Regions from separate parts of the Homo sapiens genome. Here all the other regions are reported to be linked to region 2. Evidence: microRNA targets listed by miRTarBase, many of them from high-throughput screens and not tested one by one. Region 2 holds a microRNA gene; each other region holds the end of a gene's coding sequence.

Region 1 (3,124 bases), not on the chromosome of region 2:
GGGTGAGGAGGGAAGAGGGCGCTCAGCACTGCAGGCCCAATTGGGCCACATTCCTGTCTCAGGGCCAGCCTTGCACTGCCTCTAGGGAGAGGAAGAAAAGTTGGGGTTTCCTTTGCCTTAGGGTGGGACATCCCTGCGGGAGGAGTGCTCTACTCAAAGTCTTCTGCTTGGAGAGCCCTGGGGAAGATTAACCCTTTTGTAAACAGGACCTTCTCCAGGGTCTCTCCCTGGGTCCATCCAACAAGATCCAGACTCTCAGATCCCAGCACCCCAAAATCAACGAGCTGTGCAAATAGCACTCCGACAGGCCGACTGGGCAGAGGACCCGACATTCGCATTCCACTCCCTCTGCATCCTCCCCTCCTCCCTGGGCTCCCAGGCGGTGCGGGTTTTCTTGCTGCGCGTTTAGGGCGAGGACGCTCCCGCCCCTTTCTGGGGGACCTGGTTATCTCCTTCGATCCCCTGTCAGCCCCTCTCCCGGGGCTTCCCTCGCCTTCGGTGGGCTGGCGCCTCCTCCCGATGGTTCAGCCCGCCCAGCACCACCACCAGCCCTCCAGACACCCGCATTCCCGTGCAGTCCGCCCGGCGTCAGCCGTCGGTCGGTCCACTCCTACCCGCAGCCTCAGTCTGCCCGGGTCTCACCTCGACGCCGGCCTCCGGACAGCTCCCGCTGCCGCTGCTGGCTTTTGCAGCAGCCGCAGCCCGGGAGGGAGCAAGTCAGCTAGGGAGGGAGGGAGGCGGCGGGTCTCCCTCTTCTCCTCTCCCGTGTGCTCATCCCCTCCTCTCCGGTCCCCTCCCCTACGCTCCGCCGCCGTCGCCGCCCCCGCCCCTCGCGAGCCTCCGGCCCCTCCCGCCAGCCCAAGGGAGCCACGCGTTACCCAGGCAACCGGCCCGGGGACCACTCGCGCCCCCTCCCTGCCCCTTCTCACGCGCGCCTCCAGGAGAGACGCCTCCTTCTTAAGTCCCCGGCCCCTCCCGCCAACGGTCACCGGGATTCCTGGAAGAGACGGGGATTTGGGGGAAACGGAGAGGGTTCTGCGAGGAGACGGGACCAGTGAGACAGGCAGGACCGGGTGGAGGCGTCTCTACGAGCAGGAGGGCAAGGAAGATGGGGCAAGACGCGGGGAGGCTGCAGAGGAGGAGCAGGGTGGGGTTTGGAGAGAATGGAGCCTGCAGAAAGGAGCGGCAGAAACTGGCGCTGGAAGGCTCAAAAAAGGGGCCCTGGAAAGGACGGAGCGGGGACAGGAAAGGGAATTCCAAGGGGCAGGAGGAGCTGGGCAGAGGAGCCCGTGTAAACACAGAGTGGCCCATGCCCAGGATGAGGGACAGGTGCAGCTTTCATTCTCTACCTCGCTGCTCCCAGTCCTAGGGCTCGGACTCCCCAGCCTTTCCGCAGCCGCATCCACCCACCATGGCCTCAGGGCCGTGACGCGCGTGGGGAGGGATGCGGCTGGGGGCTGAGCAGCGGCCATGAGTGTGGACGGGGGAGGGCGGCATTCCCGTCTGGCAGCTCTGTTTGGGTTTCTGACGGGGCCTCTTCAAACCTCCAGGGGCTATTCTGGGCCTGTCCGAGTTGGGAATTCCCCAGAGACCTGGAACTTGCTCTCCACAGCCACAGCCTTGGCCCCGCCCTGTATCTGTGCTGCCGCCAGTAAGGCTGCCCCTGGGGAGGGCGGAGCCAGAACCTCACAGCCTCACAGGGCAGAGCAAGGCTGGATTGACGGACACCAGGCCGAGAAGAAACCCTTGGGGTTGGCGGCAGTTCTTAGTGAGGGCAATTCATTCAATCCAGAGCCAGAAACAGGATTTTATTTAAAATTTATTGTAATGGGGTCCGCGCAAAAGGAAGGGGTGGAGGGTGGGGTACATGCAGGGGACACAGGAACACGATGACATGGCCAGGGCCACAACTTCTTCTGTCGTGGGGAAGAGGGATGAAAAGACAAGACCAGGGCTGGAGCTGGGGTGGAAGAGGGGAGGGGGACACTGGCTGCATTCCCCCGCCCCCAGGAAGCACCTCTAGGCCCTGGACCCCTCGCTCACCCTGGCCCCTAAGACTCCATCTCTTCTCTGCCTCTGGCCCTCCTGGCTCTTCCTCCTGCTCCCCTTGACTTTTTCCCCTGACAGATTCTCAAGTAGGACGATGTTCAGGGCCTGACCCCAACCCCCCATACCACCTTATGAAGGTACAACCTTTGCCGGCCCTGCTTCTGCCCCTCCTCAAACCTCACCGCTTTCCCTCTTTGGGACAGCTCTGATCCCCCTCCTTCCTCTCCTCCCTCCCCCTGGAAAAAAAAAAAAAAGGAAAAGAAAGCACCAACTCCCCGGGGAGGGGCTGCAGACAGCAGGGGGAGAGGACTGGAAGGAGAGAAGAGGACCGTCGAGGGAAGAGGCTCACAAGTCCCTGGGAAGACAGGGCATGGGCTTACAGAGAGGAGAGGGGGTACGGGCAGTGGCTGCTCGTGTCCTCTGCCACCCCTGCCCACTGTCCAGGGGACTTCAACACAACCGAGGGGACAGGTTTGTGTGGGGTCAGGTCTGACAGAAGAGGAGCAGGAGAAACAAATCGTTAAAACCTAGCGAATTCCCCTAAGAAAACATTTCTTCCTCCTTTCCTTCTGGAGGCTCCTTGGTTGGTAGGGAAATAGGAGTTGGTGGGAAAAGAGGGGGGAGAGGAGCTTGTACCAAGGGACTCTACTCCATTCTCCCCTCTCCCCCGCAACCAACTTGGAGCTCACCAGGGTTGGGAGGGAAGTGGCTGAGAGCTCACAGGCACCCCCTCCGCCCCCGAGAGGGAGCCCACAGCTGTGGGAGGGGCTGCTACTGCTGCCGCTGCTGCCGCTGCCGCCGCTGCCGCTGCCGCCGCCATTGGACAAACCTCACCAGTACCTGCACAGGAGAAACACCACGGATCACAGCGCGATCTGAATGGCAAGAGCCTTGCCCTCACCCCACACCTTCCCAGCCTGCTTCCCCTGGGACACAGCCGTTGCTCACTTCCTATCTGGACCCCAGAGGCCTCAGCCTGCATCCTCACCCAGACAGAGCAGTTCTCAAGGATCCTCCCTGTGCCCAGAAGTCTCCCTAGCCTGAGTGGTACATGGGCATCCCTCGCCTTCCTGAG
Region 2 (8,391 bases):
GTCTTAATACAGGATATTGCACCTTCCATTACCTGTCCGTAGACCGAATGTAGTAGTATTAGCCTTCTCTCTGACATAGAAGTTTTTAAGGAATATAATGGTCACAAGAACTGCTAAACTATTGATATGAAATATTTGACATGAGTAAACAGAACTATTACTATTAATAGTAATTGCCCATTTATTGATCATTCTTAATGTGCATTTTGTCATCATTGTCACTGATAGTATAGAAATCTCATGTCGGTTGTTTAAGCAGAAGCAAAAGCTTCTAGTCTTTTGCTTTTCAAATTTCACCAGTCTTGAGTCTCCAAATGAGTTCAATCCCATGAAAGAGAAAAAAACTTCATAGGAATTACTTTCGTCTAGAATATCAGACAGTACAGTTATCAGACAGTACAGAGTGAATTATAGTAGCTAATATGTTTAAGTTTCTGTGTTTGATGTGAGTCCCCTCAGAGCAGATGCTGAGGCAAGGATGCAAGTACACATAGTTTATTTGGGAAGCAATGCCAGGAAACACCAGAGGGAGATTTGGGAAATGAGTCCAGAAAGAGAAGGAAGTAATGAAGAGTGTGTATTCAGGCATGTTACCACTGTTAACAAGTGACTCTTAATCCTATTGGGGATCTCTGGGAATGGAATAACAGTGCCTGAGTGGGGATGAAGCTGGGCTGTTTCTACAAGAACTCCCATTAGCCATTGGCTGAGGGCTGCTACTGGGAAATGTTAATTCCCTGGCATTTGTGGCCTATCAGTGTGTGTGGACAGAGTGGGCTCCAGCAGCCAGAGAAAGGCCTCAGGCAGAGATGCAGGTGCTGGCAGTAGGTAGGAAGTCATGCCAGTGTACACCAAGACATTAAACACAAAGGGGCGATGGATGGAACACCAGTGTCTGCTAGATATCAGGCAATGTTGTCAGGTTTTAAAAATTTATTTCTTTAATTGAGATATGATTCATATACCATAAAATTCACCCCTTTAAAGTGTATATTCCTAAGATTGTCAATCATCTCACTACTATCTTAATTCCAGAACATTTTCATTATCCCAGAAAGAAATCCCATACCCATTAGAAGTAACCCTCCATTCTCATCTTCCTCCAGCCCTTTGCAGCCACTAATCTACTTTCTAACTATAAATTTGCCTGTTCTGGACATATTACAGTGGTATCATACAACAGTATAGCCTTTTCTGTCTTTGACTTAGCATAATGTTTTCAAGGTTCATTCTTACAGCATGAATCAGTACTTCTTTCCTATTTATGGCTGAGTAATATTCCATGATACGAATATACCACATGTTGTGTTATCCATTCATCATTTAATGGATATTTAGGTTGTTTCAATTTGGGGGCTCTGATAAATAAAGCTGTTAGGAACATTTTCGCACAAGTTTTTGTGTGGACACATGTTGTCAGCTCTCTTGGGTATTTACCTAGAAGTGGAATTGCTGGGTCATACGGTGACTCCATGTTTAACCTTTGGAGAAATGGCCAAACTGGTTTCCAAAGCTACTGCACCACTGTACATCTTCACCATAGAGTTCCAATTTCTTCACATACTCACCAACGGTTTTGTTATTGCTATTTTTTATTTTAGCTGTCCTAGCGGGTGTCAAGTGGTTTTGATTTGCATTTCCCGTGTGATTAATGATGTTGAGCATCTTCTTATGTCCTTATTGGCCATTTTGTGCCAGGCACTGTTGTAAGAGATGGTACTTTATTACTGTGGTTTTGCAGTTGAAGACATTGAGACACAGAAGATTTCATAATATGCCCAAGGTCACCCAAAAAGTAGCACAGCCATGGTTGAAGCTCAGGCAGTCTGCCTCCAGAACCTGTTGTACTTAACACTTCTTTGGACTTGTTGGATTAAGAACATCTTGTAGCATTTCCATTTAACATCATTTTCTTCATCCTTAAAATGGGAACCATAATGTCTGATCTGCTTGTTTCATAGGAGTCCAAATGGAGTCAGCTTAATTCAGTAAACAGCCCCTGCATGACCATGTCATGAATAGGCCATAGTTCTTGTTCTCAAATTGTTCATTGTCCGTGGAGGAGCCCGACAAGTAAACAACTAAAATTCAGCATAAGCTTGTAAATGCCAATGCTATATAGTCTTGAGGAACAGATAAATTCCAACAGTTGTTTAATATTTCCATGACGCCTATTTTCTCTTGCATCTCAAAGGAAACAGCTGAAAAGACCAAGAGAGTGAGCACCAAAGAGATCTAATGAGGAGGCACAGACCAGTGTCTGGATCCCAGCATCTTCTCCACTTCAGCGCTGAGTTCAGTATACACAAGTGTCTGCTACAGTCGCCAAATCACCAGTATTTGCTTATATAGCAATGAGTTTTATTTTGTTTATTTGTTTTGCAATAAAGGATATGAAGGTGGCTGGCTAGGAAGGGAAGGGCCACAGCCTTCATTTCTAGGAGTGCTTTAAGAGAAACTGTAAATGGTGCTCTGGGGCTGGAGGCTAGTAAGGAAACTGCATCACGATTGAAAGAGGAACAGACCCAAATCTGAACCTCTTTTGAGTTTACTGCATCTGTCAGCAGGCTGCAGGGAGTGCACACGATGCCAGAGAGAACTTAGCAGGGTGTCCCCGGAGGAGAGGTTTGGGAAGCTCCACGGAGAGGAACGCTCTCTGCTTCCAGCCTCTTTCCATTGCCGTCAGCATGACAGACCTCCAGCATCCACGCATCTCTTGGTCCCAATAACTGCCTCTAGATACATAGCCATACTGCTAGTTAACCCAGTGTCCCTCAGACTTGGATGGAGTTTCTGGGAGGGTACACCCAAATGATGCAGATACTTGTATACTTTGAGCCCCTTAGCGACCTAACCAAATTTTAAAAATACTTTTTACCAAAGGTGCTATTTCTCTGTAAAACACTTTTTTTTGGCAAGTTGACTTTATTCTTCAATTATTATCATTATATTATTGTTTTTTAATATTTTATTTTCTTGACTAGGTATTAAGCTTTTGTAATTATTTTTCAGTAGTCCCACCACTTCATAGGTGGAAGGAGTTTGGGGTTCTTCCTGGTGCAGGGGCTGAAATAACCCAGATGCCCCCACCCTGCCACATACTAGATGCAGCCCATAGTTGGCCCCCCTAGCTTCCAGCAGTCCACTATCTGCCAGAGGAGCAAGGGTGCCTTAGACCGAAGCCAGGGGAAGAAGCATCTTCATAAAAAACTTTCAAGATCCAAACATTAATTTGTTTTTATTTATTCTGAGAAGTTGAGGCAAATCAGTATTCCCAAGGATGGCGACAAGGGCAGCCAAGCAGGGCTTAGGATATCCCAGCCTACCAATATGCTCATTCGACTAACTAGGAGGGTGAGTTGGCCCTGTCTCTTCTTTTTTCTGGACCTCAGTTTCCTCAGTGAGCTGGTAAGAATGCACTAACCTTTTGATTTGATAAGTTATAAATTCTGTGGTTCTGATCATTGGTCCAGAGGGGAGATAGGTTCCTGTGATTTTTCCTTCTTCTCTATAGAATAAATGAAATCTTGTTACTAGAACAAGAAATGTCAGATGGCCAAAAACAAGATGACCAGATTTGATCTCAGCCTGATGACCCTACAGGTCGTGCTATGATATGGAGTCCTCATGGGTAAAGCAGGAAGAGAGTGGGAAAGAGAACCACCCCACTCTGTCTTCATATTTGCATTTCATGTTTAACCTCCGGCTGGAAATAGAAAGCATTCCCTTAGAGATGAGGATAAAAGAAAGTTTCAGATTCAACAGGGGGAAGAAAATGGAGATTTAATCCTAAAACTGTGACTTGGGGAGGTCAGTCATTTACAGTTAGTCCTGTGTCTTTCGACTTCTGTGATTATTAACCCCACTCACTACCCTGTTTCAGATGCATTTGGAATACCAAAGATTAAATCCTTGACATAAGATCTCATTTGCAGAAAGCAGATTAAAGACCATCAGAAGGAAATTATTTAGGTTGTAATGCACAGGCAACTGTGAGAAACTGTTGTGCCAAAAATAGAATTCCTTCTAGTTTTTCTTGTTCTCATTTGAAAGGAGAAAATTCCACTTTGTTTAGCATTTCAAGCTTTTATGTATCCATCCCATCTAAAAACTCTTCAAACTCCACTTGTTCAGTCTGAAATGCAGCTCCCTGTCCAAGTGCCTTGGAGAACTCACAGCAGCACGCCTTAATCAAAGGTTTTACCAGCCCTTGGACACTATGGGAGGAGGGCAAGAGTACACCAATTTGTTAAAAGCAAGAAACCACAGTGTCTCTTCACTAGTCATTTAGAACATGGTTATCATCCAAGACTACTCTACCCTGCAACATTGAACTCCCAAGAGCAAATCCACATTCCTCTTGAGTTCTGCAGCTTCTGTGTAAATAGGGCAGCTGTCGTCTATGCCGTAGAATCACATGATCTGAGGACCATTCATGGAAGCTGCTAAATAGCCTAGTCTGGGGAGTCTTCCATAAAGTTTTGCATGGAGCAAACAAACAGGATTAAACTAGGTTTGGTTCCTTCAGCCCTCTAAAAGCATAGGGCTTAGCCTGCAGGCTTCCTTGGGCTTTCTCTGTGTGTGTAGTTTTGTAAACACTATAGCATCTGTTAAGATCCAGTGTCCATGGAAACATTCCCACATGCCGTGACTCTGGACTATATCAGTTTTTGGAAAGCAGGGTTCCTCTGCCTGCTAACAAGCCCACGTGGACCAGTCTGAATGTCTTTCCTTTACACCTATGTTTTTAAGTAGTCAAACTTCAAGAAACAATCTAAACAAGTTTCTGTTGCATATGTGTTTGTGAACTTGTATTTGTATTTAGTAGGCTTCTATATTGCATTTAACTTGTTTTTGTAACTCCTGATTCTTCCTTTTCGGATACTATTGATGAATAAAGAAATTAAAGTGATGGTTTTATTGGTTTCCTTTCCCCCAATTAAGGCCAAATAAAGTCGTGAGAACATTACCCATTTACTTCCTAAGAGTGGATTTGAGTTTCAGGAGCCTTAAAAAGGACTGAAGAGTTTCTCCTGGGACTACAGCTTGGATGGAAAGTTTACTCGGGGACTGGTAGAACAAGTTTCTTTGAAAGGATCATGGATAGTGGGTCTGGAGTAGAAGGTGATGACAAGTCAGAAAGTGTCTTAGTCCCTTCAAGTTGCTATAACAAAATGCCTCAGACTGGGTAATTATAGGCAACAGAAATGTATTGCTCACAGTTCTGAAGGCTGGGAAGCCTAAGATCAAGGTACCAGCAGATTCAGTGTCTGATGACGGCTTGTTGAAGCTTGCCTGCTTCAAAGAATGCACCTTTTTGATGCATCCCCACATGGTGAAAAGGGTGAACAAACTCCCTTAGGCCTCTTTTATAAGGGCACTTACCCATTCATGAGGGTTAAACTTTGATGACCTAATCATCTCCCAAGAGCCTCACCTCTCAATACCATTGCTTTGGGGATTCAATTTTAACATATGAATTTTGGGGGACATAAACATTCAAACCATAGCAGGTGCATTCCTGTATTGGGAAGACATTAAATTAAATGACTCGTAAATCCCCCATATGATTTAGGAGACTAAATGGCATCCAGTGAGGCTGACTGCAGTAGCCTGTGAGAAGGCAAATAAACATGGGAAGGTAGTACAGGGAACATGGAATCATTGCCAGGGACAGGCTAAATAACCTTAATGGCACTTCCTTGATACACACATTCCATGGGGGTAAACAGTTCCAAGTGGGCTGAACGTTAGCTGGTTAAAACCTCTTTTGCTTGGGGACACATGACTAACGCTTTCCAACCTGCCATTTTCATATGTATCATGCACTCTCCACCCACAATAATTCTGCCTCCCAAAAGAGCATATTATAGTCAATGAGGTTTAAGGTTTCTTCGGTTCAGTCATGTGGAAGTTTTGCTTTCCTAAAATTATAGCTGGATCACTTTGATTGGATTTGGGATATTACCCAAATGCTAATCAAATATTAAAAGGCAATCTTTTTTGTTATGTGATTGCTACAGATTACTGCTCTTACAGTTTGATTCTTCAAATTTTCATTCTCAGAAGGGAATCTTAAACCCAGTTTGAAGGGTACCTTGTCCACAACCACTTTTAAATTTTGGCTAACTTCCCAACCTTCCACCATGTTCTGGGAAAACTTTTTCTGCTGTTATAGTATGTATGTATTCAGGAAGTGCAACATTATTAAACTAAGCATAATTCAGAAGCTAAGTTTCCTTTCATCAAAATTTAATATTACGAATTGTGCAAAGAAGTATGTTACTTTGATCAGCTTTATTTTAGAGCTTCTTTATCAAGTTATCATCAGTCCTCTTGAATTATTTCTGAAATAAGGGGAAGGAAGGAAGGGAAAAAATATGAATGCATAGATAGATCTAAGCAGATGCCTTCAGAGCCCTGGAATAATCCTAGCTGGGATATGGGACATGAAAACAACTCTGGCCTACTGCTGCTGGGGGCTGTTGCATGGTGTGACATAGGAAGTAAAATGTTGCTGTATGAATAGGAAGGAGGGTCTTCCTGTCAATGAGAATTAATGTTTTCCTAATGATTTAACTTTTTTACTGAAAAAATAATATGTGTACATGGTAAAAATCCAAATTGTATCACAGAAAATACAGTGAATAAAACCATCCTCTTAAGAGGGTGTGTACATTTATAAATTTGCCTATGATTGCCTATAAAGTCAAAGAAGTTGCACCAGTATGCATGACTGCCAAAAGTACATAAACTGAGCATATCCATTTCCCTACATTCTTGCAAACATTGTGCCTTCGAACTTTTTGGCCTCTGATAGAGGAAAAATGGTAACTCCTTGTTTTATTTTTTATATTCATTATTCCTTTTGTAAGATTAAATATCATCTCATGAATAATTGGTTCTTGTCATTTTCTTCATTTTCTTTGTTTTTCTAATGGTTGCTGGTCTTTTTCTTACTGGTTTGTCATAGTTCTCCATAAGTATATCGTTAGCCCTTTGTTGTGAATGTGGCAAATACTTTCTCAGTTTGTTTTTCTTCTTTTGACTTTATGAGATGCTTTGCCTTGTAGAAAACTCGACTCTTTATATAACCCGATTTATACATCTTTTCCTTTCTGTCTTTAAGACAAAAGAACTTTAAAATCTGTGTCATTGTTGAAACTTAAGGACAGAAAACGGCCAGAGTAGAACTCTGATGCCCTCAAAAAGCATTCAGAAATGTCCACTTGGGGAGGACAGAACATGGCATAATGTAGTCATTGCCAGAGTCATGGAATATATAAGCTAAATCTAAGGTTGTAATTAAGGGAATAAGAACAATATAGTAGGGGATCCAAACTGTACCTCAACTATCCTTTGATCCATTCTACTCTATGATTGTTTAAGGGTGATTTTCAACTCTTTTGTAAGGAAAAAGTAGAGATGGAGATCAATATCATTTATTGTTCATTTACCAAATATTTGTTGTGTCTATTACTACGTTACAGACATTTTCTAAGTGTTTGTTCTAAGTGCTCGGACTTACCTGTGACCAGTGAAAAGACATAATGATCTCTGGCTTTGTGGAGCTTAAATTCTAGCAGGGAGAGCTAGATAATAGATGCAATAAATAAGTAAAGCTTATGGTATGTTAGAAGGTGATAAGGACTATGTATAGCAAGAGGAGGGGGACTAGGAGAGTGTAGGGTAAGGGAGTGTCTCAGTTTGTCTCAGTTTCCCATTTTAAATATAGTGGTCAGGATAGGCCTCATTGAGAAAGTGAAAAAGACTAAGCCAAGGGAATTCGATGTGTGATGTCTGAACAAGAGCATTCTAGACAAAAGAGAGAGCCAGTGCAAGAGTGTCAGCTTGGCAGGGCTGAAGTGAATGAGGGAGAGAGTAGCAGAATACGAGGCAAAGAAGTGACAAGGCAGGGTAAGGGACTGAGGGGTGAGGAAGGTATATCTTGTGGTCCTAATAGGCCATGTAAGGAATCTGGCTTTTACTCAGTGAGATAGGAAGCTTTATAAATTGTTATTTGAAAATAAGTAGGATAAACTACAGGTGATCTTGTTTCTGCATGTGTGCCCAATTATTCTCAAAAACTCATTTGATTAGGAGTTTGAGACCAGCCTGGCCAACATGGTGAAACCCCATTTCTACTAAAAATAAAAAAAATTAGCTGGGCGTGGTGGCACACACCCGTAATCCCAGCCACTTGGGAGGCCGAGGCAGGAGAATTGCTTGAGCAATCAGCAGTGAGCTGAGATCACACCACTGCACTCCAGCCTGGACAACAGAGCGAGACTCCGTCTCAAAACAAACAAACAAACACCTCATTTGATACCTTTATGAAAACCTGAATTATGCCATCACTTATGCATTGGTGTATATAGCTACCCATCAAGT
Region 3 (3,124 bases), not on the chromosome of region 2:
CAGCCAGCTCTTACCATGCTGCTTTGGCCTACCTCCCTGAAATCTGCTACCTTGTCACTTGGGCTGAGGTTAGAGCATCAAGAAGGGCAGTGGGGCTATGGGCATACCCCTCAAAAGCTCCGAAGGGAGGGTCAGCCTTCATGGAGAACACATGTTGGTATGTTCATGATTCTGTGGGTTTAGTGTGGAAAACCACAGAAACTCCCAGTTTTGAGGCCTGCCAAGATATGGGGTTCAGAAGGGAGGAGGTGTGGGCATTGCCTGCTGATGAGTCACACTGGGGCGAGAGGAGACCTGCCTCACCTTCAGGCTATGGTAGCAGCTATAGCCACCCAGCCTAAGAAAGATGAAGTCTCAGATTGCACATCCTCTTCAAGTCCTGATGAGTCCTGATTGCCACTGCTATGGCAGTTTCTAGCGTGTTAGGGTTCACTGGCATCTCAAAGGCCCTCTTCGAGAGGGAAACTGGAGATGAAGGGTACAAGGTGACATGTCCAGGTTCCCTAGGCTGATTGATGGCAAAGTCAAGACCAGAACCGGGATCTGCACCTCCCCACCCCTATAATTCTCTGATACCGAATGAAGTTTTAGATGCCTTTAGAGGTGCTGGTGATTGGGCTAAGAAACTTAAGGGCTTGCTTAGGGGAGGGAAACATGATCAGGCTTAAGGGGGCAAGGTACTTTGTGCTTCAGAAGTATTTGTGACAGCTGTGACTAAGGGATTCGAAGAAGTGGCAGGAAGAGAGATTTATGGCCCTCCAACTCCCTCCCTTGGTGTTGACCCAGCAACAGGTGTGTAGTGACAGGGACACATAAAGCCAGAGACAAGGCTGAACAGGCGGCAGGGCCATTTGGTGAGACAGTCAGCTGACCCCGTGTAGAAAGAGCCCTGACTCACTGGGGAGTGGGAGAGGAAGACAAGTCCGAGGCCGAGCACTGCCCACCCTGACGTGATGGCAGGGGAGAGCCCAGGGCCACGGACCTGGTAAGCATTCCTAAGAATACGGAGGCTGGTGCTGGGAAAAGCAGAAACCCAGTATTGGGGAGAGAGGTTTCTGGGGTGAGGTGGGGCCAGGAGACCCTGCAGAGTAGCAAGGCCAGGCAGATTGTCTTTGTAGTGGTCCTGGTGGATGTGGGGCCTGCAGCATTAAGCTGGGTGAAGAAGGCGCCACGCTGCACCTCTTATCCCATACTCATTGTCTAAGCCACTGTCCACCCTGCCCACTACTCATTTCTTTGGGGCTCCTGGATGGAGACCTGAAGTAAGGCTTTGTGTTCTGAAATCACCCCCTTGGTCCCTAGTACCTCTTTGGAGGGCTACTCCCACCTTTTTCCCCTCCTCTCATCTTTCCCAAAGTGATACTTGCTTTGGCCCCTTATCCTAAGACCACAAGTAAAGCACCTATCCCTTTGGGGAGGGGGAAGTGGTCCCTTATTCCAGGACCACAAGTGAAGATGTCAGCCTTTCTCTTTGGGGAGAGGGGGAGATGGTCCTTTATCACAGGACAGCATTGAGATGGGGTTGGGTGTGTGAGGGGCCCAGCTTATTGCAATTTTGATGGCCCTCCTTTTCCTCCCTCCCCCAAGCAGTGTGCCTGTTCCACAGTGGGCACATCAGCTGAGTCTTAGAAGTGTATGTTGATGCCGCTAAAGAAATCACAAGAGACAAAGTTTTGGTGCGCCTCTACTGCACCGCAGGGTCCTGGGACACTGTGCGAGACAGGGGAGGTACTTTTTTTATTTTTTGTAGAGGTGGTCCCTGTCCTCCAGGAGCTTACAATCTAGCTGGGGAGACACAACTAATGCACACTTAAACAATCAGTACAATTAGCGATTACCACAATATTGACCACAACTGCATGAGACCAGGGAAAAGCAAGATCAGTGAGGGGCAAGGGGGGTTCAGAGAAAGTGTTTTAGTAAAGGTGGGATTCATTTACTTTTACTGCTTGAATAGTTCCAAATCAAGTGACACATTATTTTGGAGTAGGGTGGGCTTGGGAGGCAGTGAGGAGGAAAGGGGAATCGAGAGAGCAAATGCAGCGAGGCTGGAATGCAAGTGCCCTGGGCAAGGGACAGCGAGAGGGCCCCACTGTATTTCTTAACCACCCTCCTTCCTCAACTGTGCCCTCCAGTCCCGCCACACAGGCACGCGGTTGGTGCTGCACCAAGATTCAGGGCGTCGGCTGGCGATGTCAGAATGTCCATTCTGCTGGCTGGTGCGGTGTTTTGATTTCCATGGTGGGGCCTGCTGGCATGGCCCTGGCTTCGGGGCTGGGATGGTGCTGTCCCGACTTTGTCCAGATCAGAATGCGGTGCCTATGCCCAGATCTCAGGGGTCTGCTCCCCCTATCCCCCCTCCTCTCTCGACCCTGCCCCTTAGTGGGACCGGTGCAAAGGGGTTGGGAAGGGATCTGGTATCTTCGTCATTGTCGGTACTGCTTCTCCGGGGGTCTACTGGCCCCTCACTGACCTTGCCAAGTGCTCCTCTGGCGAGGGAACACAGGGGACCCCACATTCCTGCGCGGCACTGGCTCCCGTGCTGGCCGAGATGCACAGGAGCACCTGATGATACGGCCGCCCAGGGCTGGGAGCTGGGGCCTCAGTTGGGGGCTCGCTGCCTGCGCTCCCCCAACACCTGCCGCCCGGTCCGCGACACCGTGTATGCCAGCTTCTGCAGGGAGTACCTGAACACCTGCGACGAGAAACCCAGGACCCACCCTTAGTGGAGAGCACCCACAGCATGTCTGTGGTGCTGCCGTGCCCACCCCCGCCCCACCCCCTGCCCCGCCCGCCCATCCAGCGTAGGCTGGAGAGGCGGGCGCGGGCGCAGCTTGTCCACGAGTCAGGGCAGCTGGAGCTTTTCCAACTGTGCTGAGAGCTGCATGGCGGCAAGCTGATTGGACCCACAACTTAGGTATACCTCACTTCTCGCAATGGGCTGTGTCCCTGGAGGATTTCGAAAAGCGAATCCTACCCAGTAAATGCAGCATTCCAGGAACACCTTGAAGGAAATATGCGATTCCTTTGGCAAAGGATTCCTTTAGCAGGGAATTCTTCCTGCAAAGGGAGCTTTTAGGGTAAATGATTTTATGGGCAAAGCGCTTTCTTCTGATTTATCTCT

The links. The annotated mature microRNA hsa-miR-198 reads GGUCCAGAGGGGAGAUAGGUUC and lies in region 2 at 3,467-3,488, shown strand. An mRNA with a match to its seed (bases 2 to 7 or 8) in the 3' UTR can be bound and repressed. Matches are read on the target gene's strand: a 7mer-m8 pairs with bases 2 to 8, a 7mer-A1 pairs with bases 2 to 7 and ends in A, and an 8mer does both.
Region 1: miRTarBase lists MAZ as a target of hsa-miR-198. Seed matches in the 3' UTR shown: 7mer-A1 at 2,487-2,493.
Region 3: the mRNA of NNAT is a reported target of hsa-miR-198. Seed matches in the 3' UTR shown: 8mer at 2,298-2,305.

The regions. Positions count from the first base shown.
Region 1 is chr16:29,809,842-29,812,965 of GRCh38, reverse strand. It overlaps MAZ (MYC associated zinc finger protein), which reads right to left. Exons shown (of 5, transcript NM_002383.4): 5 at 1,802-2,889. The coding sequence ends at 2,735. It overlaps PRRT2 (proline rich transmembrane protein 2), which reads right to left and starts at 773. Exons shown (of 4, transcript NM_145239.3): 1 at 643-773. It overlaps MVP-DT (MVP divergent transcript), which reads left to right. Exons shown (of 4, transcript NR_186424.1): 3 at 2,793-2,931. RefSeq lists silencers at 771-920, 1,321-1,400.
Region 2 is chr3:120,390,800-120,399,190 of GRCh38, reverse strand. It overlaps MIR198 (microRNA 198), which reads left to right and starts at 3,462; the gene lies at 3,462-3,523. FSTL1 (follistatin like 1) reads left to right here. Exons shown (of 11, transcript NM_007085.5): 11 at 2,195-6,898. The coding sequence ends at 2,239. It also overlaps the pseudogene BTNL12P.
Region 3 is chr20:37,522,238-37,525,361 of GRCh38, reverse strand. It overlaps NNAT (neuronatin), which reads right to left. Exons shown (of 3, transcript NM_005386.4): 2 at 2,924-3,004; 3 at 1,672-2,695. The coding sequence ends at 2,603. The region is part of intron 1 of BLCAP (BLCAP apoptosis inducing factor); the gene reads left to right. Among named protein-coding and RNA genes, the nearest start is that of NNAT, 2.6 kb to the right of the region's middle.